Linked DNA regions of Homo sapiens. The protein of the gene in region 2 purifies or fractionates together with the protein of the main gene of each other region. This does not show direct contact. Each region holds a gene or a part of one and is shown on either strand. Other genes may lie near its edges.

Region 1 (3,500 bases), on a different chromosome or scaffold from region 2:
TGTCTCAAAAAACAAAACAAAACAAAATGATATAACTTTTAGAAAAATCGCAAGAGAAAATCTTGAGGATCTAGAACTAGGCAAAGACACCAAAATGGAACTTTATGAAAATGTAGCACTAGCCTAGGGTGAGTGTGGATGTATCACTATTTGTGGATGTAGAAACAGGAGTAGATGAGGGTGAGTCACTTGTCCTGCCTGCCACAGAGCGAATCAGTGGAAGGGCTAGGCTTTGGCTCACAGCCCACACACCTAGCACTGGGATGCACCGAGGTCACCACCACGCGCCTTTGTCTTCCCTGCACACCAGATGCAGCCAAACACCAAAGCCCAGGTCAGTGGCACCGGAACAACACATCAGTTTAGAGGATTTCTGATGTTATTCCACTTTGGTTATTGGCAGTAGAGATGGTTCTATCTAATGACTAAGAACTGGTATGTAGGATCATGATAACTTACAATAATGCCACCTTTTTCTCTGAAAGTCTTCATTTTCTCTGCTCTAGATGGTAAAAGCAATCCAGGTTTTGCGCATTCATCTTCTTGAGCTGGAAAAGGTTAACGAACTCTGCAAAGATTTCTGCAGTCGATACATTGCTTGTCTGAAAACAAAAATGAACAGTGAAACTCTGTTGAGTGGAGAGCCTGGAAGCCCGTACTCACCAGTGCAGTCCCAGGTACTTACATTTGGGGGTCTCGCTTTCCCTCTCTGCCACTGTGAACATCTGCATTGAGTCATGAGACCACCAGCTCTTTCAGAATTCACTGGGTCATCTTTATGACTTTCTACAAGAAGGACCCTCTAGGTCTCTGACCCCAGCCTGGTTTGGGAATGAACTCCCTCAGATTATGAAGTGAGTCCTCAATCTGCATACTGGGCCCCCGGTCCCATGTTTATGGAAGGCACAATTCCATTCATTTCTTTCTTTTATTTCTTCTGAAAATATTTTACTTATTCTTTTGAAAAATTGTGTAAAATACACATAATATAAAATTTACCATCTTAGCTATTTTAAAATTTACAGTTCAATGGTGTTAAGTTTATTCACATTGTTGGGCAACCATCAACACCATCCATCTCCAGAACTTTCTCATCTTCTCAAACTCAAACTCTGACCCCATTAAACACTCATTCCGGATTCCCCCTCCCCTAGCCCCTGGAACCCACCGTTCTACTGTCTGTCTCTGTGAATTCGATGACTCCAGGTCTCTCATGTTAAGCGGAATCGTACAGTGTTTGTCCTTCTGGATCCTTTGCTTGTTTCATTGTGCAGAATGCCTGGAGGGTTCATCCATGCGGAAGCACTATTGTGTTTTAGCCATTCTGATGATATGTAGTGATATTAATATTTCTTTGTGGTTTTAATTTTCATTTCCCTGATGGCTAATAATGTTGAACATTATTATACCCTCTGTGTATTTTCTTTGATAAAATGTCTGCTGCTTATGTCTTTTGCCTTTTTTTTTTTTTTTTTTTTGAGACAGAGTCTCGCTCCATCACCCAGGCTGGAGTGCAGTGGCGCGATCTCGGCTTACTGCAAACTCCGCCTCCTGGGTTCATGCCATTCTCCTGCCTCACCCTCCTGAGTAGCTGGGACTACAGGTGCCTGCCACCACACCCGGCTAATTTTTTGTATTTTTAGTAGAGACGGGGTTTCACCGTATTAGCCAGGATGGTCTCGATCTCCTGACCTCGTGATCCGCCCGCCTTGGCCTCCCAAAGTGCTGGGATTACAAGCATGAGCTACCACGCCTGGCCGTCTTTTGCGCATTTTTTAGTTGGATTTTTTTTTAACTTCTGAGTGTTGAGAGTTCTTTGCTTATTGTAGATACTAGTTCTCTGTTGGATATGTGGTTTGCAAGTGTTTTCTCCAAGTCTATAGTAGCTAAGTATTTTTCTCATCCTCTTAACAGGTCTTTTTCAGAGCCAGCCTTTTTAATTTTAATAAAGTTCAATTTATTAGGTTTTCCTTTTATGGATCATTCTTTTGGTGTCAAGTCTAAGAACTCTTTGCCTAACCCTAGGTCCCAAAGACTTCGTCTTAAGTTTTTTCCTAAAAGTTTTTAAATAGAGACAAGGTCTCACTATGTTGCCCAGGCTTGTCCCAAACTCCTGGGCTCAAGTGTGAACCACCATGCCTGGCCTCAAAAGTTTTATAGTTGTCCATTTTGCATTTAAATCCGTGATCCATTTTGAGTGGATTTCTCTATAGAATAACTCTCAAAGCTGGGCACATTGTTTCCTCCCACCCTGTGATTCCTTTTCAAAATTGTTTAGCTGTTCTGGTTCCTTTGCCTGTCCACATAAATTTTAGAATGCTCTTGTCTAGAGCTACAAAAACATCTTGCTTAGATTTTGATAGGAATTGTATTATACCTGTATATCAATCTGGGGAGAATTGACATCTTTACTGCATTAAGTCTTCCAGTCCACAGGTATGGCATGTCTCTCCATTGATTGACAACTCTGATTTCATTCATCAGTGCTTTGTAGTTTTTGACACATAAGTTGTGTACATGCGTTTTTAGAATTATACCCAAGCATTTCCTTTCCTGGCCTGTGCCATCTCGAATAAGAGTGGCAAGAGCAGACATCCTTGCCTTGTCACCGCCTTAGGGGACACCTTTCAGTCGCTCACTGTCGATGATGTTGGTTGCAGGTTTCTTTCTAGATGCTCTTTATCAAGTTAAGGAGGTTATCCTATATTGCTTTTTTTCTGAGAGATTTTATTTTGTTCAATTTTGTTAAATGCTTTTCCAGCATTGATTGATATGATTATGTGATTTTTCTTCTTTAGCCTGTTAATAATGGACATTACATGGATTGGTTTTTTGAATATTGAACAAGCCTTCTATTCCTGGAATAAACTCCACTTGGCCATGGCACATAATTCTTTTCATATGTATTCTTGAATTCTATTGGCTAATATTTTGTTCAGCATTTTTGTCTATATTTGTAAGGGATATTGGTGTATAGTTTTGTTTTTCATACTGTCTTTGGTTTTGGTATCAAAATACACAAACTTACATAAAATGGATTGGGAAGTATTCCCTCCTCTTATTTTTTTCTGGAGATTATGTAGACTTGGTGTTATTTCTTAAATGTTTGAGAAATAGAATTGATCTATTTCACCTAAGATGTTAAATTTAGGAGTTTAGAGTTGGTCTAGTATTCTCTTCATAGCCTTTTGGTGTTAGCAGGGTCTATAGTGATCTCTTCCTGTTTTATTTCTGATATTGATCTTTTGTGTCTCTATTTTTTTTTTAGTCAGTCTTTCTAGAGGTTTATGTAATTTTCAAAGAACAGTATTTTGTTTTATTGATTTTTTTGGTTGTTTTTCTGTTTTCAGTTTCATTGATTTCACCTTGATCTTTATTATTTCCTTTCTTCTGCTTTCGGTTCATGATGTTCCTCTTTTTCTAAGATCTTAAGGTGGAAGCTGGGATGATTGATTTGACTAGCTTAACTTTTATTACAGCCTAATTAATGTGGCAGGCTT
Region 2 (4,175 bases):
GGGCGATAAACACTTTCTTTTGTGGGGGGGGAAAGGCATTTTCATACACCACGCTTAATTTTATTTAGATTTAATAGCGATATCAGGGGCACTTCAAAGAAAGTTCTTTTTTCGCCCTTCTCCTAAGAATGCGAATCTGCTAGCAAAATCGCCTCGTGCTATTTTATGGCAAGGAAAATTAAAGGCCTTCTCCCCCCTCCTTCCCTACACACACTTTAGGGAGGAACACACACACACACACACACGCATGCACAAACACACGCACGCAGGCGCGAGCACACGCACACAGGCGCACAGAATAAACACCTCTATCCTCCATCACCTCTAACTTCCAACTTCTAATTGCAAGATAGATTTCAGCCTCTGTGGGGATCAGGACGATCTAAACATTTTAACTAAGATTATTGGGATAAATATTTCATAAAGAGCAGGGCAGATATTAAATTACTCCTATTGATTTTAGTATCACAGCCCAATTCCATTCCTCGGCCTCTTCAGTTTAATTGATCTCTTAAGGAGGCCAACTTCGCACCCGCAGAGGGTCTGGGTCTTGGACCGGGTGGCCCAGGGCAAGGTGTGCGGCCCGGCGGGTGCGCCCTCTTCGTGCGTGTCTTCTCGGGGTTCCCAGCCGCCTCGCAAGTCGCTCCGGTTACTGGGCTCAACCGATGTGCTCCCCCATAAAGTGGCTGAGTGACTGTGACTCCTTGGAGCCCACGCCGGCCGGTGAGAACCGGGAACCCCAGGCAGTGGGGAAGGGGAACAATTGTGAACGCCCTAGTGACGGAGGAGTGAGCAAGCGCCCAGGTCTCTCGAGGAGAACCCTAACTTCGAGGTTCCCCGTCTGCTTTACCCTCCAAGAAAATCCCAGGGCCGGCTAACTTGGGCGCCGCTAGCGGAGAACGGAGTGTTCACCCCGGAGCCGAAGTGCAGTAGACACTTAGCGACTTTCCGTGGCGAGTCTAGGGTCTTTGCCTGGCGACCTCATTGTCTGAGCGCCCCGTACCGCTCACCGCCCACCTCCCCGCCCCCTGCCCACCCGGTGGGTCTCGCTCCAGTTGGGGGTGGGGAGTTGGGAACAGTGTGAATGGGAAGGGGGTGAACAAAGCCAAGCTCCCGCCATTCTCCTCCGCCTGCACCCTCTCCAGCTCGATGCGCCCGGAGGCCGGGGCGCGCCCCCAGCGCACTGACGCCGGACCCCGAGGAGAGGCGGGCGCAGGGGACCCCAGAGCTGGGGTAGTGCGGGTTCGTGGCGGGGGCTTCGGCAGCCAGGACCCCGGACCACCTTAAGAGCGAGCCCCGCCCCGAGCCCGGAACTTGGGCGGCGCTGATTGGTGCAAATGTAATGGCTGAAATTGATTGCTGAAATGCAAAACTTGTTGCTGCTTCTCCCGGCGCTGGGCGAGAGGCAGACACAGAGAGGGGAGCCGAGACCCTCGGAACGCCCCACGCAGAGCCCCCCCGCTAGTCGGGAGAGGGGTGCGCAGACCCCCCAGAGCTGCCCCCGCGCCCCCCTCCCCCCATTCCGGGCTCTGAGAGCGCAGCGGGAACGCCTTAGCCTGCTCGCCCGGCGTGGCCCCCCGACCCGCGTACGCCCCCCTCCCTCAGGTCCGAGAGGGACTCGCGAAGCACCTCAGCGCGGAGGCAGGGAACCGGAGCCTTGGAGCGACCCAACCCCTCGTCTCGCTGCCCTCCCGCGCCTGCAACGGTGCGCGGAGACTCCGGCGAACTCAGACACCCAACGGCGGAGAACAGAAGCGGCAGGCGGCGGACGTGGCCGCGAAGCTGCGCGCCGAACGCAGCGCACCCGCTGCCGAGCAGAGGAGCCGCGCCTTTCCCCGACCCTCGGCTCCAGCCCCCGGCGCCTGCCGCCTCGCAGCCCCTCTGCGTCCTCGGCTCGGGGGCCGGCACCGGCGATGCCGAGCGGAGCCTCCAGTCCTCCGACCCGCTGAAGAAGCAGCAGCCGCTCGCCCGGAGCCTACGGGGATTGTGCGAGCGGATCGTGCTCGGTGGAGGCTCGGGCTGCGGGGCGCGGGGACTCCGGGGGGCGGGGGGAGGGACCGCTCTGTCGGTGCCCGGCGCCAGCCGCGGCTTTGAAGGGTCTCCCTCCCCTGCCCTTAGCAGCTCTGCCACGGACTCCGGGAGGCTGCGGGCGGCGTCCTGAGGGCTCCCCAGCAGACCCAATCGGACTTGAGAAGGTGATCGCTCTGCTCTCCCAACCCCCTTCCCTCCCCATTCCCCCCACTTAACTTTTTGTCTCCGTTCATCCGCGGCTTCGTCCCCTCCCCGCAGACCCACCCGCGGCTGTGACAACCGCCCGGGGCATGGGCCCCCCAACACGGCTCCTAGAGGCCCCGCGGCCTCGCAAGATGTGAGAGGCCCTCCCCGGGCAGAATCGGAGCTTCAGGAGAGGAGCTAATACCCCGCCCCCCGTCCCTCACATCAGGCGGGGTGGAGGTGCGCGCTGAGCCCCCGCGGTGCTGAGCGTCCCGGAGCGCCCAATCCTGGGCTGGAACGAGTAGCTGGCCGGAGGCGCGCCGCGGAGAGCCGGCTGTCATGCCCTATTGATCCCCCTCTGCCCCCCGCCAAGTATGTTTGGGCTGGACCAATTCGAGCCCCAGGTCAACAGCAGGAACGCTGGCCAGGGCGAGAGGAACTTTAACGAGACCGGACTGAGCATGAACACCCACTTTAAGGCCCCGGCTTTCCACACTGGGGGGCCCCCTGGCCCTGTGGATCCTGCTATGAGCGCGCTGGGCGAACCCCCGATCTTGGGCATGAACATGGAGCCCTACGGCTTCCACGCGCGCGGCCACTCGGAGTTGCACGCAGGGGGGCTGCAAGCGCAGCCTGTGCACGGCTTCTTTGGCGGCCAGCAGCCTCACCACGGCCACCCGGGAAGTCATCATCCCCACCAGCATCACCCCCACTTTGGGGGCAACTTCGGTGGCCCGGACCCCGGGGCCTCGTGCCTGCACGGGGGTCGCCTGCTCGGCTACGGCGGCGCAGCCGGAGGCCTGGGCAGCCAGCCGCCCTTCGCCGAGGGCTATGAGCACATGGCGGAGAGCCAGGGGCCTGAGAGCTTCGGCCCGCAGCGACCGGGGAACCTCCCGGACTTCCACAGTTCAGGTGCCTCCAGCCACGCCGTGCCGGCCCCATGCCTGCCGCTGGACCAGAGCCCTAACCGAGCCGCCTCCTTCCACGGCCTGCCGTCCTCCAGCGGCTCCGATTCCCACAGTCTGGAGCCACGGAGGGTGACGAACCAAGGAGCCGTCGACTCGCTGGAATACAATTACCCGGGCGAGGCGCCCTCGGGACATTTTGACATGTTTTCGCCCTCTGACTCCGAAGGGCAGCTGCCTCATTATGCAGCGGGTCGCCAGGTTCCTGGGGGCGCTTTCCCGGGCGCCTCGGCCATGCCCAGAGCTGCGGGCATGGTGGGCTTGTCCAAAATGCACGCCCAGCCACCGCAGCAGCAGCCCCAGCAGCAGCAGCAGCCCCAGCAGCAGCAGCAGCAGCATGGTGTGTTCTTTGAGAGGTTCAGTGGGGCCAGAAAGATGCCTGTGGGTCTGGAGCCCTCAGTGGGCTCCAGGCACCCGTTAATGCAGCCTCCCCAGCAGGCCCCGCCACCCCCTCAGCAGCAGCCCCCGCAGCAGCCGCCACAGCAGCAGCCGCCGCCGCCACCCGGGCTTCTAGTCCGACAAAATTCGTGCCCGCCTGCGCTCCCTCGGCCCCAGCAGGGCGAGGCGGGCACGCCCAGCGGCGGCCTGCAGGACGGAGGCCCCATGCTGCCCAGCCAGCACGCGCAATTCGAGTATCCCATCCACCGGCTGGAGAACCGGAGCATGCACCCTTATTCCGAGCCTGTTTTCAGCATGCAGCATCCTCCTCCGCAGCAGGCGCCCAACCAGCGGCTGCAGCATTTCGACGCGCCCCCCTACATGAACGTGGCCAAGAGGCCGCGCTTCGACTTTCCGGGCAGCGCGGGAGTGGACCGCTGCGCTTCGTGGAACGGCAGCATGCACAACGGCGCTCTGGATAATCACCTCTCCCCTTCCGCCTACCCAGGCCTACCCGGCGAGTTCACACCGCCTGTGCCCGACAGCTTCCCTTCGGGGCCGCCCCTGCAGCATCCGGCCCCGGACCACCAGTCCCTGCAACAGCAGCAGCAGCAGCAG
Region 3 (3,500 bases), on a different chromosome or scaffold from region 2:
TAATTCTGTCTATCACATCTAGTCCAAATTTCTTGCCTCAATTTTTGAGGCCTTCCAAAAATGCAGTCCCCACTGATCACATTGTATCTCATTATTTTCTATCCCATGTTCTCTTCATGCCTCCAAAATCTAACAGCCCATCAGAACTTAATCTGTATCCTCTCTGAATGCCTACAGAGCCAGTACCACCCCGTCTAGCATGTAATTGCTCTCCTAACTTTCAAATGTATGCTAACTATATGCCTAATTATAGAAGCTCATTAACCAACTAAAGTGAGTAAGGCACTGTTCTGGATACTATGGGGTAATCAAGGATAAATAAAGATAATGTCTGGTCTCAAATGTGTAGGGCAGGGACGACACCACCATATCTACCTCACCCAGCACAAACAGCACAATACTCAATTGCAGTTGTTCAGATGAGACACTCTGCTCTGGGCTATCAGGAAAACTTCATAGAGGAGTTGACATTTGAGCCAGATCTTGAAGGTTGAGAATATTTTCATGTTAAGAAGAGGGCTTCACAGGTGAAAAGAACGGGAGAAATCAGAGGCAGAAAGGAGAAAAAGGCAAAGTTGTATGCTTCATGCAGGTAGGGACTGTGTTACCCACATCTTCAATCTCTCAGGGCCCTTAATATAGTCATTGGCACACAGTCCACACTCAGTGCATACGCACTGGGTTGAATTTGTTATACTTGATTTTAAGTGGTTTCATCTAGATCCTAAGTGAATAATGTGCTACAAGTGAGGTGGAGAGCTATATATTTATACGCCTGGGTTAAGTGGCTCACATTTACACCACTAACACCAAAATTGGAAGGGTAATTTAAAAATGACTTTAATGGCTTTTTCCCAGGCAGTACAGCTATATGTAAAATAGCTGGTGCAGTTGGATCTAGTCCCTGATTGCTCATATATTACCCATGAAATAAGTAGAAGATTAATATCCTCTTTGACTCCAGTTTTGTAAAATTATGATATTTATAACCTTTTAAATACAAAAAGTCCATTACATCCATACTATATTTAGATGCAATCTTAACCACATCTTTAGATGTAATTTGTTTTGTGATGGTAACTGATGTGATTTTTACTCATAATTTTACTTACAGTTTTTACATTATGTAGAATTTCAAAGAGAAACCACGTTTTACTCTGCTAATGTAGCAACAACTGGAGTTCAAAAGAGGTGTCATTTTTAATTCTCGGTCCCAAACTTTCAGGAAAAAGCTTCAGAACAAAGAGCTGCAAATTAGTAGTTACAGAAACTCCCATATTATAAACACTCAGTATTTCCTTTCCTACCATGTGTGGGCAAACCAGCATGCACAATTTGTAGGCTAATGTTAACTGTTCCAAGAGTGGAGTCACTAGTCTATTTTGTATGTGACATGGGAAAAAGATCAGTCTCACTGTGTAGTAGATGTGAGACTTGGAAAAGGAACTGAGAATTCTAAATAAAACAGCCTGCTAGCAAAACCACGCCACCTTACCACTTGAGCTGAAGTCCACAGGCCCGATCCACTTGAAGGCTGGTTTACGACCTCGCTCTTCTGTTACATGCACTTTCTTTATCAGAGCCAAGCTGGTCAGAACATTGGCTATGTCATAGAGGCGTCGTACCTTTGCTTGAAGATATAAAACACGATTACGGTCATGCTGCCTGTGACACCATGACAGTTTAGTTTATGTGACAGGTAACTTTTCTCGGCTGCCATATAAACCTCAGGTGGAAAGCAGCAGGTTGGGATGAGGAGACCAGTGGCTCTGTCATAAAATCACCCAGGATTTATGTACCTGCAGTATCTGAAGGCTAAGGGAAGGTCAGTGTGTCCTTCCATTTCCACAACTTCACACCTCTTACAAGAGGCACCTGGCGACAAACAGGGAGCACTGTGATTGCAAAAACACCAAGGGAGGGAATGGGCTGTAATTAAAAGCTTAGTAAATGTAATTCTGACATGGCACGTCAAAAGCATGCCCTGAGTTTCTCCAAGCAGGAGACTGTGGCGCCAGCTCCACAAGGCAGCTGGTCTGTGAAAATGACAAAGATTCCCCAGAGCTTCCTGCCAGGCTGCACTCCTGGGCACACAGGATGCTCAAGGTCAACAGTACAACTGTACTAAAGACAGGCAGCTCCTCACCTGAAATTGTAGCATTCTAGCCACCCAGTGAGAAGGGGTTGGATGGGCCTTGCCTGAATCTTAAGTGGCTTTGGGAGAAACACTTAAATATATACAAAGTACAGGAAATACTCAGAAGGGGTGGTAGCACATGAGACAGGCACGATAATGACCACAAAGTATTTTCTATTCAAGAAATTGATTTACAGGTAGGAAACCCACTTGACCTCAGTGTTAAGATCAAGCAAAGGAGTTTGAATTATCATCCAGAAATAGGAAGCATTCACCCTGGATGCAGCTTTCTTCTTCCCAATCCTGATTTTATCTAGCTATTTCACCCATAGGGTGACTGTAATTTCAGCTGGAAACAAAAAATAGCCAGATGTTGCAGCTCATGGTTTCCCAGGGCTTACAGGCTACCAGCAGCCCAGGGCATTTGGCTCAGTATCCAAGATGGACAGAAAAGGAGGATGCACTGGGTGTGATACTTGGAAACTCTCTCCCTGTCCATGTCCCACCACCCTTACCCTGGCCATTCTTCTGGTTCTTACCTGTAGACAATTTTCATCTCCACCCTTCAGAAGAGTATGCAGGGGGTGGGGAAAAAAGGGGAAAGAAAACTCAGACATTCTGTCTTGGATGCAGCAATACTAAAGAGAAATGCAAAATAATTCACACCCTCCCTGACCGGAGTTCTCAGGATAGTGTTCTGTTTTTCACTCTACTGAAACCACCGAGGAAAAGGCACTGACAGGACTCTAAGCTGAATTCTAGTAGGTGACTAACTTACCTCTCACAGCACCAAAAACCTTGATGAATGCAGGAAAGGAGTATGTATGTCAAAAACAATATATATATTTTTAATCTTGGAAGCAGAAAATATCAACACATGAAATCCCACCCTTTATGTGCTAGTAAGTTGATGGAGGTGAAGATTCTTACTTTTAAATTTACTATGGTCTGGGGCATCTTGGCTTTCTTCTATCAGTATTTTGGCAGCCACATCCAGAGTGACAATCTTGGTTTTGGAGACGAGGAACAGCATGACAAACTTCTGGCTCATAATTCTCAGAGACTTGTCTTTTCTACTGTTTGCAGATGCTACACAAGGAATGAAACAAAAGCATCAAAGTATATGATTTTCTACAAGAAAGACTATACTTGCAGCTTGCCAAAATGATCTAGCCCTATCAGCAGATGGAAAGATCACCCTTGTCATTGGCAGAAGCTTACTGGATACACATCACAGAAGTCAGCTCAGGAAGAAATGAGGCAGATTTTCTTGTGGCTTGTAAAATTACTCTACAGTAGGCATAAACTCTGAGATGCATATTTTAAACCACTCAATGCTTTACACTTATACTTCCTATAATAG
Region 4 (2,205 bases), on a different chromosome or scaffold from region 2:
GATAGGACCTTAGAATGTGTCTATCACGTGACACTTGTAAGAACCACTGTTCTAGCACAAGCCAAAAGAAGTGACAGCAAAGACTGACATCCAGAATCCTCTAATTCAGTTCTCTCTACTCATCTCACTACCTGTGCTCTGCTTAGGTGAATGTGTTTGCAGCATGTGGAGGAACAATCCATGTATTCTTTGTCCCTGCCCAAACCTAAAGATTGAGGAGGAACTGACAGCAATATTGAGAGTGAGGCAAGAGAGAAAAAAAACCTAGCTTCGGAGTCACATCTGGTTTTCAATGCGAGCTTCGTGCAAGTTGGACTGAGTTAGGTGCCTCACGTCTGGAAACCTGTTTCTTCATGTGCATTTGCGCACCCTCATTACATTGTTCTGAGAATTAAATATGGCTGCTTACATAGCAAGGAAGGGCTCAACAGAGGCCGTTAGTGGTAGTAATAATACATGCTGAAAAAAAACAACTGGTGAAGAAGATACTGAATTGTACCTGAGATTTATACCATTTGCTGTTAAAAAAAAAAAAAAAAAAAAAGCCATACTACTCCCAAATACCTCCGCGCAATGTTTTCCAGTCATTAATTCAACAGCAGAATAGGGGATAGGACAAATGTCCTTATGCTCATGGAATTAATTTTAACGCCAGGTAGTTTAGCTTCTATGTTAAGTGCTAGAGAGCAGCATCCGTTAAATCTGGTGGCTGCAGCAGAGCACTTCCCTAGGAACCGACTGCACACGCCCAATTCAGAAGGAAGTGAGCACTGATTCCCGGCAGCCAACTCCCGTTCGCGCAGCCGCTGCCACCGGCCCTTAAGACGATGTGACCGCCAATTTTGTAACAGTGACGTCACCCGACGTCTGCAGGCCCTGACAGTTGGCTCTAGCGGGTGCGCAGTCTCCCTACCCCCGGTAAGGGGCTCTACCGGCCCTGGACCCAAGATGGGACTCCTACCTCCGACCACCCGGAGCAGCGGCGCCCCAGATCCGGCCGTCCGCCCTGCGCGTGCGCGGCCCGACCCCGCCGCGGTCTGGCTGTAAGGGCGCTGGAGGGGAGCTGGGCTGCCCCAGCCTTCAATGCTGGAGGGACGGCCGCGTGGGGCTTCAGAAAGGCTAGGCGCCGAGGAGTGTAAGCAGCGTGTGCCCATTTAAAGACAAAATCAGTGTGTTTTTCAGGTTTGTACGAAATGAAGTTGTAGAAAGATTAACAAGGGTTACCTGGGAAAGGCAGATTTTCAACTTAGCGTTTACATGTTCACCCAGTGCATTATTTTATTTAAAAAGAAGAAAAATATATACTTAACGGCTCCTAATCCAGCTCTCTTTGCCTGGTCTCCCAAGACACCTATCATTTTGCCCAGCACATACCTTGCCGCTGTGCCACACTGGAGTCCCCGGTTAGGTTCCCTGTGCTTAGACCGCCCCCTAGTCCCTCCAGGAAGCCTTTCCCAACCCTTTCGCGTTAACTGCCCGCCTCATCATCACAAAGGTAACTTGAGCTTTTATCAGTTTTAATTACTCCTTTTAATTTGCTCTTCTTCCCTATGTTTAGGCAGAAACGAGTCTTTTTTTAACCATATTCATCACCTGGTGCCAGCAACAGAAGTGTTCCCTAAAAATTCCTAGAATAAACCAACACGTGCTGACTAGATTCTCCATCTTCATAAACGGTGATACAAACTATGCACATCATAACTACCAGCTTCATGAGGTCAAGACTAAATCAAAAATTCTCAAGGACTTTTCTAAAAATTTTTTTAGCATAAACTGTTTCCTCTAACTTAAACTTCTCTTAAGTGAACGTGTCTTTCCACTGGGATGACTGTCTACATGCTCAGGAATCCTGAATTCATGACTATGTTCAACTCCCACGACCATTTTTAAATCATCAAAATGGCAGCAAATGTCATTACCTGGACCAAAAAGCTGCAGGTTTTGTGGCAAATGGGAAATGTGTTATAGAATATGACTGGGAAAGAGGGATTTCTTAGTGCTGCCCAGAATTAATTCAGCAAACACTGAACATTACTACGTGCCACATATAGGATCATACTGCATTTCAGGTCACCATCAAAGGTAAATTACAAGGCTGGGCGCAGTGGCTCATGCCTGTAATCCCAGCACTTTGGGAGGCCAGGGCAGGCGGATCACCTGAGGTCAGGAGTTCAAGACCAGCCTGGCCAACATGGCAAAACCCCC
Region 5 (3,002 bases), on a different chromosome or scaffold from region 2:
CAGATGCGCGGCAACCTCGACTCTGGGTTGCATAGCACCCCATCCGAAGTGGGCCTCACAGGTTCACCCTTTTAGACTGGGGGCGCAGCTCACTGAGGCTCCTAAAGCACCTGGCCCAGGGCCTGGCCCATAGTAACTGCCTGGGGAACCTCCAAGCCTTCAGGCCCTGTACACTTGCTCTCTGGGTGGGGCGTCCCTAACCGAGATGGGGGAGAAGGGGTCTCCCTCCCATTTCCTCATAGGTACCGTTATCTGCTGTCCACCATATCTGCAGTCCAGCACAGTGAGGTGGCAGCCAGTGTTGCCTGGACAGGCCCTCCCCCACCCAGGGATGCGCAGTCGCCCCTCACCAGGTCAGGGAAGTATGGCCTCGCAAAGGACCTCTTGGGCTGCTGGTCAGAGGGGATGTTAGTCAGCTTCTCCAAGCAGAACAGCTGGGGAATCTCGATGATGTCCTGTTCCACCAGGCCCAGCTCCGTCTTCAGGATGTCACGGTTCAGGTGAATGCACTTCTGTGGGTGGGTGGGTGGGTGGGGGGGGGGGCGGGGGAGCAAGGAGAGCTCATCAGGAATTAAAACCAGTTTCCTTCCATACTGAAGGTAGGTGATGGCCTGACACCACTACCATCCCCATCACTTGCTGTGTGCCAGGAGCCTCACACTTCATACCAGCCTTACGAAATAGGCAGTTCCCTTTTCACATGGGGAAGTAGGGGCTCAGGAATGGCCTAGTCTTTAGTCCAGGATCCCATGGCTAGACAGCGTCTGGCACTTCTCAACCCAGACCAGCTGAGCCCAATACCCAGGCATCTCCCTAGGTCTTGAAATAGGCTTCAGACATAACCCAACACACCTGTCTCCCTAGGTCTTGAAATAGGCTTCAGACACATACCCAACACACCTAAGCTGTCGCCAGGGGCTGGGAGATGCTGTCTCAGCCCCATGCCTGGCTGGCACCCACCCTGCTATGCCAGGGGGGCTGTTCTTGCAAAACAGGGTACCCATGCACTGTGCGGGGCATAGAACATTCCTTGGGAACATTCCTGGGAATGTTAAGGACCCAGTGAGAGAAGCAGTTTTGCTGACCATGCAACCTCAGCCAAGAAATTACCCTTCTCTGGGCCTAAGCTTCTCCTTCTACAAGTTGGGGAGACTCTGCTTCTTATAGCCAATGATTCACTTCTAAGATCTCTGAAGTTTGGTGACCCTGAACACCATCCTCGGGACTGCTGTGATGGGCCACTTCATCCAGAAAGCATTGAGTAGTCCCTCGTCTATTTGAGTCTGATACTCAGCTTCTCGGAAGTGAGGAGCCGGCTTCTTCAAGGAGGCTGCGGAGCTATGTCATTTTCCGGGAAATGGACCCCAGGCAGCTTGAGTATAATGAGCAACACATGAACTTGGGAGTTCAGACTCATTTTCCCAAATGATTGTCCTGGGCTAGCGGTTTTACTGTGTGCCTCACTACCCTCATATGTAAGAGGTGTTTTACTTTATAGGGCTATCTGCAGGGTTTGTAGTTTTATAGGGCTATCTGCAGGGTTTGTAGTGAGGTATCTCGCAAAATGCTTGGGCCATCATTGGCTCTCAGCTAGGAACCTGGATAATCAGGGCTTTCCCAGCTTGGGGGAAAAGATCCAGCTGCATAGTCATAGCAAAGTAAACTCCCTCTGACAGTATCTGCAAGTAATATCTGTCAACGGTCCCGACATGCCATGGCGCTCCTCCCTGCCCCTGTCCCACCCTGGGTCCTCAGCCATCTGACACCATAGAAAGCTGTGTTACCCACTTCCAGCCCTCTTCCAAGCATAAAGGTACATCGTGCTGTGTTTGACTCCAGAGACCTAACTCCTTACTCCTCTAGTCTCCCTACATTGGCATATGGCCAGCTCTAGCCCCAGACCTGGGCCTGTATCAAGACCTGGAAGAAAGGGTGGCAGGCAGCTGCCCCCCGCCGCCCAACACTTCACCCCTCAGGAGGGGTGGGTGGAAACCTTCCTGCAAGACCTGCGGCACCAGCTCTTTCTTGGGGATGGCCCCCTTCACACTGGTCCTACCTCCACGTATTCATTCTGCTTCTTCAGGCTTTCATCAGCCAGAAGTTGGTCGATGGTTTTGGCTTCCCTTCCTGTAGGAAGAAGCGGGCAGCAGGCCTGCTGGTCAGGGAATGGCAGCACTGCCCAGAGCTGGGCACACTCGGGCCAGGCCCAGCCACCTGGGTGCATTCCTGGGCCAGTGACCATGGCGAGAGGACTGGCCTATCTCCAGGGATCACACCCTCAGGTCCAATATCTTCCTTCTGGGGACTGACCAGGGTCTACACCAGAACTCCCAGGCAGGACTTACTGCCACTGGCCACTCTGTCCCCAGCATGAGGGGGAATAGCCTGTGCCAGGCTGAGGGACACAGCCTAGAGCTTGTTAGGATGACTTCAGCCCCTACTCCCCTTATGCCAATACAACCTGGCACTTTCTGCCTGTGACCCTCTCCAGGTTACATTACCTTTGTTCCTCAATTGCCTGATCTTTGGGACAGGGATGCCCAATTTATTTGCCAGCTCTGAGGTGATAGTCTTTGTCATGTGGTTCATGCTCAGCAGATGTCACCTTCCATGGTGCTTCTATGACCAGGAGTTCCCGGGCCCCAACCCCAAAGGCTGAGTATCCAGGAGGTGTGGAGCAGGGTGGAAATTCTACATTTTTAACAAGCTCCCAGGTGCGCTGGCCCTCAGATAACACTTTGAGTATTGAGGGTCTAGAAAAACCTAATACCCCCAGCCCCTTTCTGGGTTCCTACAGCCTTTATTATTTTTTGAGATGGAGTCTTGCTCTGTGGCCCAGGCTGGAGTGCAATGGCACGATCTTAGCTCACCGCAACCTCCACCTCCCAGGTTAAAGCGATTCCCCTGCCTCAGCCTCCCGAGTAGCTGAGATTACAGGCATGCACCACCATGCCCGGCTAATTTTCGTATCTTTAGTAGAGATGGGCTTTCGTCATGTTGGC
Region 6 (3,500 bases), on a different chromosome or scaffold from region 2:
GAGAAGCAGACGTGTGTGGACTCACGACCTGGCCCCTCACAAGAGGTCCTGCGGCTTCTCGGGGAAGAAACATGCTTCAGGTGAACCACGGGGGGTCTTGCCAAGCCGAGGTCGCTGCAGAGAGTCCTGCTCTGCTCGGCAGGAACTGGAGCCCTCTCAGGAGCAGGGGTGTCAGGTTTCTTGCAAGAAAACTCGGGGGCTGCCCAGGAAGCCCTGCCCTCCCCACAGTGCAGGGTCCAGTCCCCAGAGGTGGAGACCCACTCAGCGGGGGCCTGTGCTGCTAGGGTCAGCCAGAGCTCTGGGTGGCAGCAGGGGGACTGGCAGGGCGAGCCACTCCTGGCCATACATGCTGCCTTCAGGGACCTCCGGTGCATCACCCGAGGCTGACAGGGCTGAGTGTGGCCAGAGGTCGACATTAACAGAAATTAAGTGTGGCTGCGGGAGGGGAAAAGCGTTCTTAGCATATCCTTCCTAAAAGTAAAGTACACTCACACCTGTAATCCCAGCACTTTGGGAGGCCAAGGAGGGCGGATGACCTGAGGTCAGGAGTTCGAGACCAGCCTGGCCAACATGGCAAAACCCCTTCTCTACTGACTATACAAAAATCAGCCAGACATGGTGGCTCGTGCCTGTAATCCCAGCTACTTGGGAGGGTGGGGCAGGAGAAATGCTTGAACCCAGGAGGCAGAGGTTGCAGTGAGCCGAGATCACCCCACCACACTCCAGCCTGGGGGACAGAGCAAGACTCCGTCTCAAATAAATAAATAAATAAATAAATATATATATATATATATTTATTTATTTATTTATTTAATAATAAAAACCAAGTACAAACATGAAATGAAGACCGCCAGGCACAACCTCTCCTGACTGCACTGACCTGGCACCAGGTACGGGGCGGGGGCATCACATTTGTCATCTTCAGGAGAGGACGTCACAGTAAAGTAAGGACTTTACAGAGGAAGAAAGCACAGCTCACAGGGGCACGAAATCACCCCAAGTCATAAGGCAGGCCAGAGGTGGGCAGATTCCAACCCAGGCTCCCCAACTCCAAGGAAGATGCTCTGTCACATCAACCCCAGGCCAGAATGTTCTAGACATTCTGCAGTCCATGGAGAACTGCCGAGTTGACGCCCAGGGAGAACAAGCATGTCCTGGGAGAGAGATGGCTTGCTGGCACCTTTGCTACAAGGACCCCTCCCATGGCGCCAGGCAGGCAGGTTCTTCCCCAGGCTTTAAAGACCATGCCTGGGGACTGCTTACCTGGGGCGTGGAGGGGGGCTGCTAAAAGAACCAAAGTGCCTACAAGTGTCTGAAAAGGAGTCCCTGGGATGCCTGGTGGTTAACGACAGGGCCGGGGCGAGACCAGGCAGCAGGCGCCCCCATCACGGCCACAGCCCTGGCGAGGCTTTAGACCTCACTCCGTGACCTTTCAGAGCAAAAACGGCCACACACAATCCGTAAGCAAATGGGCATCTCTGCATTCCTGTAAAACTTTACTTGCAAAAACAGGCAGGTGGACCAGCTTTCTGACTCCTGCTCTAAACCAAGACTAGTCACTGCCCTGCTGGACGACAGCCACTGAAGGCTGTATCTGCAGGGCCAGAAAGAGGAACTGCCCTGCAGCGACAGCATTTCCTCCCAGCCACCCGCAGAAGTCTGGAGGCGAGAATGCCGAAGACCGCGGGCCCATGTCAGGTGCCCCGAAACAAGCTCTTCTCAGAAAGCCTCAAAACTGTTTTCTTTCATTCTTCCTAGGTAGGACTGAACCCATCAGAAACGTTCCATTTCATCACCAGAGTCGAGTCCTTTTCTCAGGAATTTATGGAACTGACTCGTGGCCTAAGGTCTAAAGGGCTTCAGGTGAGGCACCTGATAAAGAGGTGAGCACAGGTTTGCTGAGGACCAGCACCTGCTGCAGTGGGGAAGGAGCGGGGAGCCCCCAGCACCGCAGGGACCATCGCAGAGGTCCAGAATAGAAGATGACTTGTGGTCAGAGCGAAGATCGTGCTCAGAGCCACATCCTCAACTGAAGCGTGAAACAAAGTCCATCAGCGTCGCAGACACCCACTAACGGCCTCAAACTGAGGCCACCATAGCTCTCACCAGTGCTGGCTACACAGAACATCATCTGCCATCTCCACTAGACGTGATCCCCACTTCTCTTGCCAAGCGGCTTCAAAGACGGTACTCTAGCCCACACCCCATCACTGGGCCCTGTCTGAACAATTCCTTCCATAACTTTCCACCCCCGAGGTCTTGCCAACACCCAGTACACTGTTAGAGGCACCCTGACTGCCCCACCCCTCAAAGACCCATCTGATGCCACCACATCTGGAACCCTCAAGCCGGGACAACGGCCCTGTTCAAAGGGCAAAAGTTCACGTGCAGTTTTCTCCAAGGCTGCCTCAGCTGCAGGAACCGAAGCCTCCCCAAATTCTCCTCCATCTGAGTGGTTTCCAACCATAAAGCAGTAGTATTTCCTGTTTCCTTTTAACTCCTCAAGTATCTCCACACTAAAGCAGGGGCTGCTTTAGCTGGAAACAACAAACTCGACTTTGTTTTCAACAATGCCTATGGGCCGGGGACCATGCAATACAAGAGACCTAACCAAAATGAATCGAGTCTTTGGGAAGCCGTATTCCACCTGGCCTGCCCTCGAAGACACCAAGGAAGAGAAAGATGACAGAACAGCAGATGAGCAGATGCTGAAATGCTCACCACAGCCACAGTCCTGCTGGAGGAAGTCCCAGGAGGAAGTGAGAATTCACACCGGGCTGTCTAGAAAGAGAACTTTGTGGCAGCAGGTCGGCCCTTGGAACAGCAGAGTAAGGGCTTGGGAGCGTGGAGTATGGCGGGTGGTGGGTCCCAAGCTGGGCTCTGAGGACTTGGTTGGGGGCAGTCACAGCCCAGAAGCTTAGATGTGGGGCCAGAGGGCAATCAAGCCAGCCCCTTGATGTGCGTGGCTTTCACCACCCTCCCTAACAACCCGTCTGTCAAGAGCTCCCCTCCCTACCAGATAGGATGCTTTAGCAGGGTGCTCTCCCAACCTCTCAGGCACCCAAAGCTTCTGTGGTTTCTTGGGAACTCCTCCCCCTTAAATCTCCCCACCCAACTCCTCTCCAGACCCCCACACTCTGCAAGCCCAGGTGCTCACTCCACACAAGTCTAATAATCCAGGCAGGGACTCTTCCACCAGATCCATGCTTAAGTCCAACTCGAGGAATATTCTTTCCTTAATCTCAACTCTGAGGTCAGGCCTTGGAGATCTTTACAGGTGAATCAACATCCTGTTTGTCTTCCAACGTGTCATTAATGGCCTCCCACTCCTGACACCCCTTCCCCCCCTCCTCAGATTCCTCAGTCAGCATTTAATTAGGAGGAATCTCCTGGGACATTCTTTCATCAGAGCCACTGGAGACAAAACTAAGATGAAGCATTTTACACATTTCCTCATTTGATGAAAAACACCGGAAAACACTTTAGTAACGTGACTAATA
Region 7 (3,500 bases), on a different chromosome or scaffold from region 2:
TTTAGTAGAGACTGGGTTTCTCCATGTTGGTCAGGCTGGTCTTGAACTCCCGACTTCAGGTGATCCACCCACCTCGGCCTCACAGAGTGCTGGGGTTACAGGTGGGAGCCACCATGCCCGGCCAATTTTTTTTTTCTTTTTTTTAAATAGAGATGGTCTCCACCATTTGCCCAGGTTGGTCCCAAACTTCTGGGCTCAAGTTGTCCTCCCCCCTTAGCCTCCCAAATTGCTGGGATTACAGGCAGGAGCCACTGCACCTGGCCTCCTTGTGTTTGTTTTTGTTTTTAAGTGAAAGTGAGTTTATTAATAAAATAAAGGAATAAAGAATGGCTACTCCATAGGCAGAGAAGACTTTGATATTTCTTATTATAGGAAATAATGATTTATTTGCAAAACACTTCCAGGTGGCAAAAATACTTTTTTAGAACTTCATTTTTTGCCTTCCATAGGTGTACACATTTGGTAATGGGGGTGGTTTTATTCCTTTGTTTTGAAAATTAATACTGTAAGATTCTTTTATCCTTATTTATGTGTAGAATATGTCTTTGTGTTTGATTTGGCAGCATATTATAGTGAAGAAAACACCTTTAACTAAAATCAAAAGATCTGGTGTCGGCTGGGCATGGTGGCTCATGCCTGTAATCCCAGCACTTTGGGAGGCCGAGGTGGGTGAATCATCTGAGGTTGGGAGTTCGAGACCAGCTTGACCAACATGGAGAAACCCCGTCTCTACTAAAAATATAAAATTAGCCGGGTGTGGTGGCGCATGCCTGTAATCTCAGCTACTCTGGAGGCTGAGGCAGGAGAATCGCTTGAACCCAGGAGGCAGAGGTTGCGGTGAGCCGACGTGGTGCCATTGCACTCCAGCCTGGGCAACAAGAGTGAAACTCCATCTCAAAAAAAACAAAAAAACAAACAAAAAAAGATCTGGTGTCTAGTTTGAGTTTAGGTGCATACAAGCTGTGTGCAGTGTGAACTTGGGCAAGTTACCAATTTGTGAGCTTTACTACTTTTTTATTTATAAAATGAGAAGAATAGTATTTTTTCTGTTACTTTTATAAATACCAAATAAATTCATGAATGTGAGAATATATCAGTATTTAATATTCTAATAATACTGTCATGTCTCCTGCCTTGCTCATTTTATTGAAAAACTGTTTTGTGCAACTTGTGCTTAACAATAAGGAATTTTATAGGTAAAATGACAGGTGCATCCTCCTGCCTTTAAAAGATACGAAATCTAAGCAGTAGGGGCCTGGTGTATTTTAGTTAGTGCTGCTTCATCCAAGTCTTGCTGAACTTTAAAAGTAACCAAACTTGATGAGAACATGTTTAAGCACCTCCTCATATTAAGGTATTATTTACTATTTTCTGAGTTTTTGAAGCTATTTCTTCAGTATGATGGTGGCTGCTATTAAAAACACTTGAAAGTTTATTATGAATTAACCTCTCTCATCATAAGCCTGGATGCTGTATACTAAATCCTGTTCTGGTAACCTATGAAAGTCTTCTCTTACTCCAAGAATAATCTTGTTGCACAGATGAAGAATGTCTGCTGCAATGCTCAAGGTATCTTCCTTTTGTAAGAAGCCTTTTTTTTTTTTTTTTTTTTTTTTGTGAGGTGGAGTCTTGCTGTGTTGCCAGGCTGGAGTGCAGTGGCACAATCTTGGCTCACTGCAACCTCCACCTCCCGGGTTCAAGCGATTCCCCTACCTCAGCCTCCCGAGTAGCTGGGACTACAGGCGTGTGCCACCACGCCCAGCTACTTTTTTGCATTTTAGTGGAGACGGGGTTTCACCATGTTGGCCAGGATGGTCTCGATCTGACCTTAGGTGATCCGCCTGCCTTGGCCTCCCAAAGTGCTGGGATTACAGGCATGAGCCACCACGCCCGGCCAAGAAGCCATTTTAATTATAAACTTTGAAGGATACTATTCCTTACTTTATTAGAAATATACCATAATCTCCTTCATAATGACCTGTGGATATTTGTAGGACTTTTTTTTGAAAATAGTAATGTTAAAGCATCTCAGCTTTATAGCATCCACTGCTTGATTTTCATTGCCATCATTCTTAGAGCACCTGTATGAGTCTGCATTTGTCAGCAGTACATATCCTTCATTCTGTAGTGCTCTTACAGCTAGGAGCAAAGATGTGTGCCTCAAACATAAACCTATAACATTTACAGTTTTTCTTTCTTGTCTGTTAGGGAGTTAACTGGCTTCTCAGTCTATGTAAAGGACAAGGAAGTGAGTCAAAATGTGTCTAAATGAATGTCTGTTAATATATGGTAAACATCGCCACATATTCCCTCACATTTTAAAGGAAAATTCCAGTGTTAGATTATTAAATCTTGGTAAATCTTCACCTTTTAAGAGTAAACATACCAACATAGAATTTCTTACTCAGTTTTTAGAAAATGATGACTGCTTGTGTTTATAACTGGTGGAATGTGGCTTTATGATGTTTTTAAGTGAGTATCTATTTTTAAAATAGTTGACTTTTTTTGTTTGTTTGTTTGAGATGGAGTCTCTCTCTGTTGCCCAGGCTGGAGTGCAATGGCATGATCTCAGCTCACTGCAACCTCCACCTCCTGGGTTCAAGCGATTCTCCTGTCTCAGCCTCCTGAGTAGCTGGTACTACAGGCGCGTACCGCTGCACCTGCCTAATTTTTTGTATTCTAGTAGAGACGGGGTTTCACCATGTTGGCCAGGCTGGTCTCGATCTCCTGACCTCGTGATCCACCCACCTCGGCCTCCCAAAGTGCTAGGATTAGAGGTGTGAACCACTGCGCCCGGCCAATAATTGACTTTTTCATTAGGTATTACTCAAAACTCATTCTTTTAAAGTGACAGTCAAGTAGCTTAAAGGAAATTTTGATATTTGTTGAGAAAGATAGTCCATCAGTCATAGTTTGTTAATATAACCAGCAGTCAAGAAAGGATCTTAAATTTAACTTTTTATTCTTTACAAGTATTGACATCAATCCTGGAGTTTTCCTTTTAAGTATTTTTCTTTGCATTTTCAAAATAGTAGCCTAATATGGAAAATCTGAGGCCAAGTAAAAAATAGTTTTATTTTTAGTATTTCATTATTCCATTGTTTGAATTAGTGTGAATCAATGCTATATTAGATTGTTTTATATAATGTAGGTCTATAATTGGAACAGATGTTCTTTATCTTTAGAGCCACTCTTTCTATAAATATCTGGCATACCAAGCCACAGTTAAATCGAAGAGATTGGGGGTTGACCTTTTTTCTTTTGTGCCCTCACATTGACTGCTTCCTTAGGTTAATGATCTAGCAAATACTGTTGTGTTTAAAATCTACTAATTTTGCCAGACACGGTGGCTCACGCCTGTAATCCCAGCACTTTGGGAGGCCGAGGTGGTTGGATCACCTGAGGTCAGGAGTTCAAGACCAGCCTGGCCAACATGGTGAAACACCATCTCTACTTAAAATACAAAAAAAAAATTAGCTGGGCGTGGTGGCGGGTGCCTG

The links.
Region 1: the proteins of MN1 (region 2) and PKNOX1 purify together in Homo sapiens (affinity purification with western blotting; one study listed by BioGRID). This does not show direct contact.
Region 3: the proteins of MN1 (region 2) and E2F7 purify together in Homo sapiens (affinity purification with mass spectrometry, with the first as the bait; one large-scale study listed by BioGRID). This does not show direct contact.
Region 4: the proteins of MN1 (region 2) and SMU1 purify together in Homo sapiens (affinity purification with mass spectrometry, with the first as the bait; one large-scale study listed by BioGRID). This does not show direct contact.
Region 5: the proteins of MN1 (region 2) and PADI6 purify together in Homo sapiens (affinity purification with mass spectrometry; one large-scale study listed by BioGRID and IntAct). This does not show direct contact.
Region 6: the proteins of MN1 (region 2) and KCTD5 purify together in Homo sapiens (affinity purification with mass spectrometry, with the first as the bait; one large-scale study listed by BioGRID). This does not show direct contact.
Region 7: the proteins of MN1 (region 2) and ANAPC7 purify together in Homo sapiens (affinity purification with mass spectrometry, with the first as the bait; one large-scale study listed by BioGRID). This does not show direct contact.

The regions. Positions count from the first base shown.
Region 1 is NC_000021.9:43,012,562-43,016,061, forward strand, and holds part of PKNOX1 (homeobox protein PKNOX1), read left to right. Parts: intron 1-506; coding exon 507-677; intron 678-3,500. UniProt on the Homo sapiens protein: Activates transcription in the presence of PBX1A and HOXA1.
Region 2 is NC_000022.11:27,798,957-27,803,131, reverse strand, and holds the start of MN1 (transcriptional activator MN1), read left to right. Parts: upstream 1-1,375; 5' UTR 1,376-2,588; coding exon 2,589-4,175. UniProt on the Homo sapiens protein: Transcriptional activator which specifically regulates expression of TBX22 in the posterior region of the developing palate. Required during later stages of palate development for growth and medial fusion of the palatal shelves.
Region 3 is NC_000012.12:77,041,570-77,045,069, forward strand, and holds part of E2F7 (transcription factor E2F7), read right to left. Parts: intron 3,227-3,500; coding exon 3,068-3,226; intron 1,631-3,067; coding exon 1,496-1,630; intron 1-1,495.
Region 4 is NC_000009.12:33,043,470-33,045,674, forward strand, and holds part of SMU1 (WD40 repeat-containing protein SMU1), read right to left. Parts: 3' UTR 1-2,205. UniProt on the Homo sapiens protein: Involved in pre-mRNA splicing as a component of the spliceosome. Regulates alternative splicing of the HSPG2 pre-mRNA. Required for normal accumulation of IK.
Region 5 is NC_000001.11:17,396,196-17,399,197, reverse strand, and holds part of PADI6 (inactive protein-arginine deiminase type-6), read right to left. Parts: intron 2,128-3,002; coding exon 2,057-2,127; intron 513-2,056; coding exon 351-512; intron 1-350. UniProt on the Homo sapiens protein: Structural constituent of cytoplasmic lattices, which plays a key role in early embryonic development. Cytoplasmic lattices consist in fibrous structures found in the cytoplasm of oocytes and preimplantation embryos.
Region 6 is NC_000016.10:2,685,523-2,689,022, reverse strand, and holds part of KCTD5 (BTB/POZ domain-containing protein KCTD5), read right to left. Parts: intron 1-3,500. UniProt on the Homo sapiens protein: Its interaction with CUL3 suggests that it may act as a substrate adapter in some E3 ligase complex. Does not affect the function of Kv channel Kv2.1/KCNB1, Kv1.2/KCNA2, Kv4.2/KCND2 and Kv3.4/KCNC4.
Region 7 is NC_000012.12:110,390,209-110,393,708, reverse strand, and holds part of ANAPC7 (anaphase-promoting complex subunit 7), read left to right. Parts: intron 1-3,500. UniProt on the Homo sapiens protein: Component of the anaphase promoting complex/cyclosome (APC/C), a cell cycle-regulated E3 ubiquitin ligase that controls progression through mitosis and the G1 phase of the cell cycle.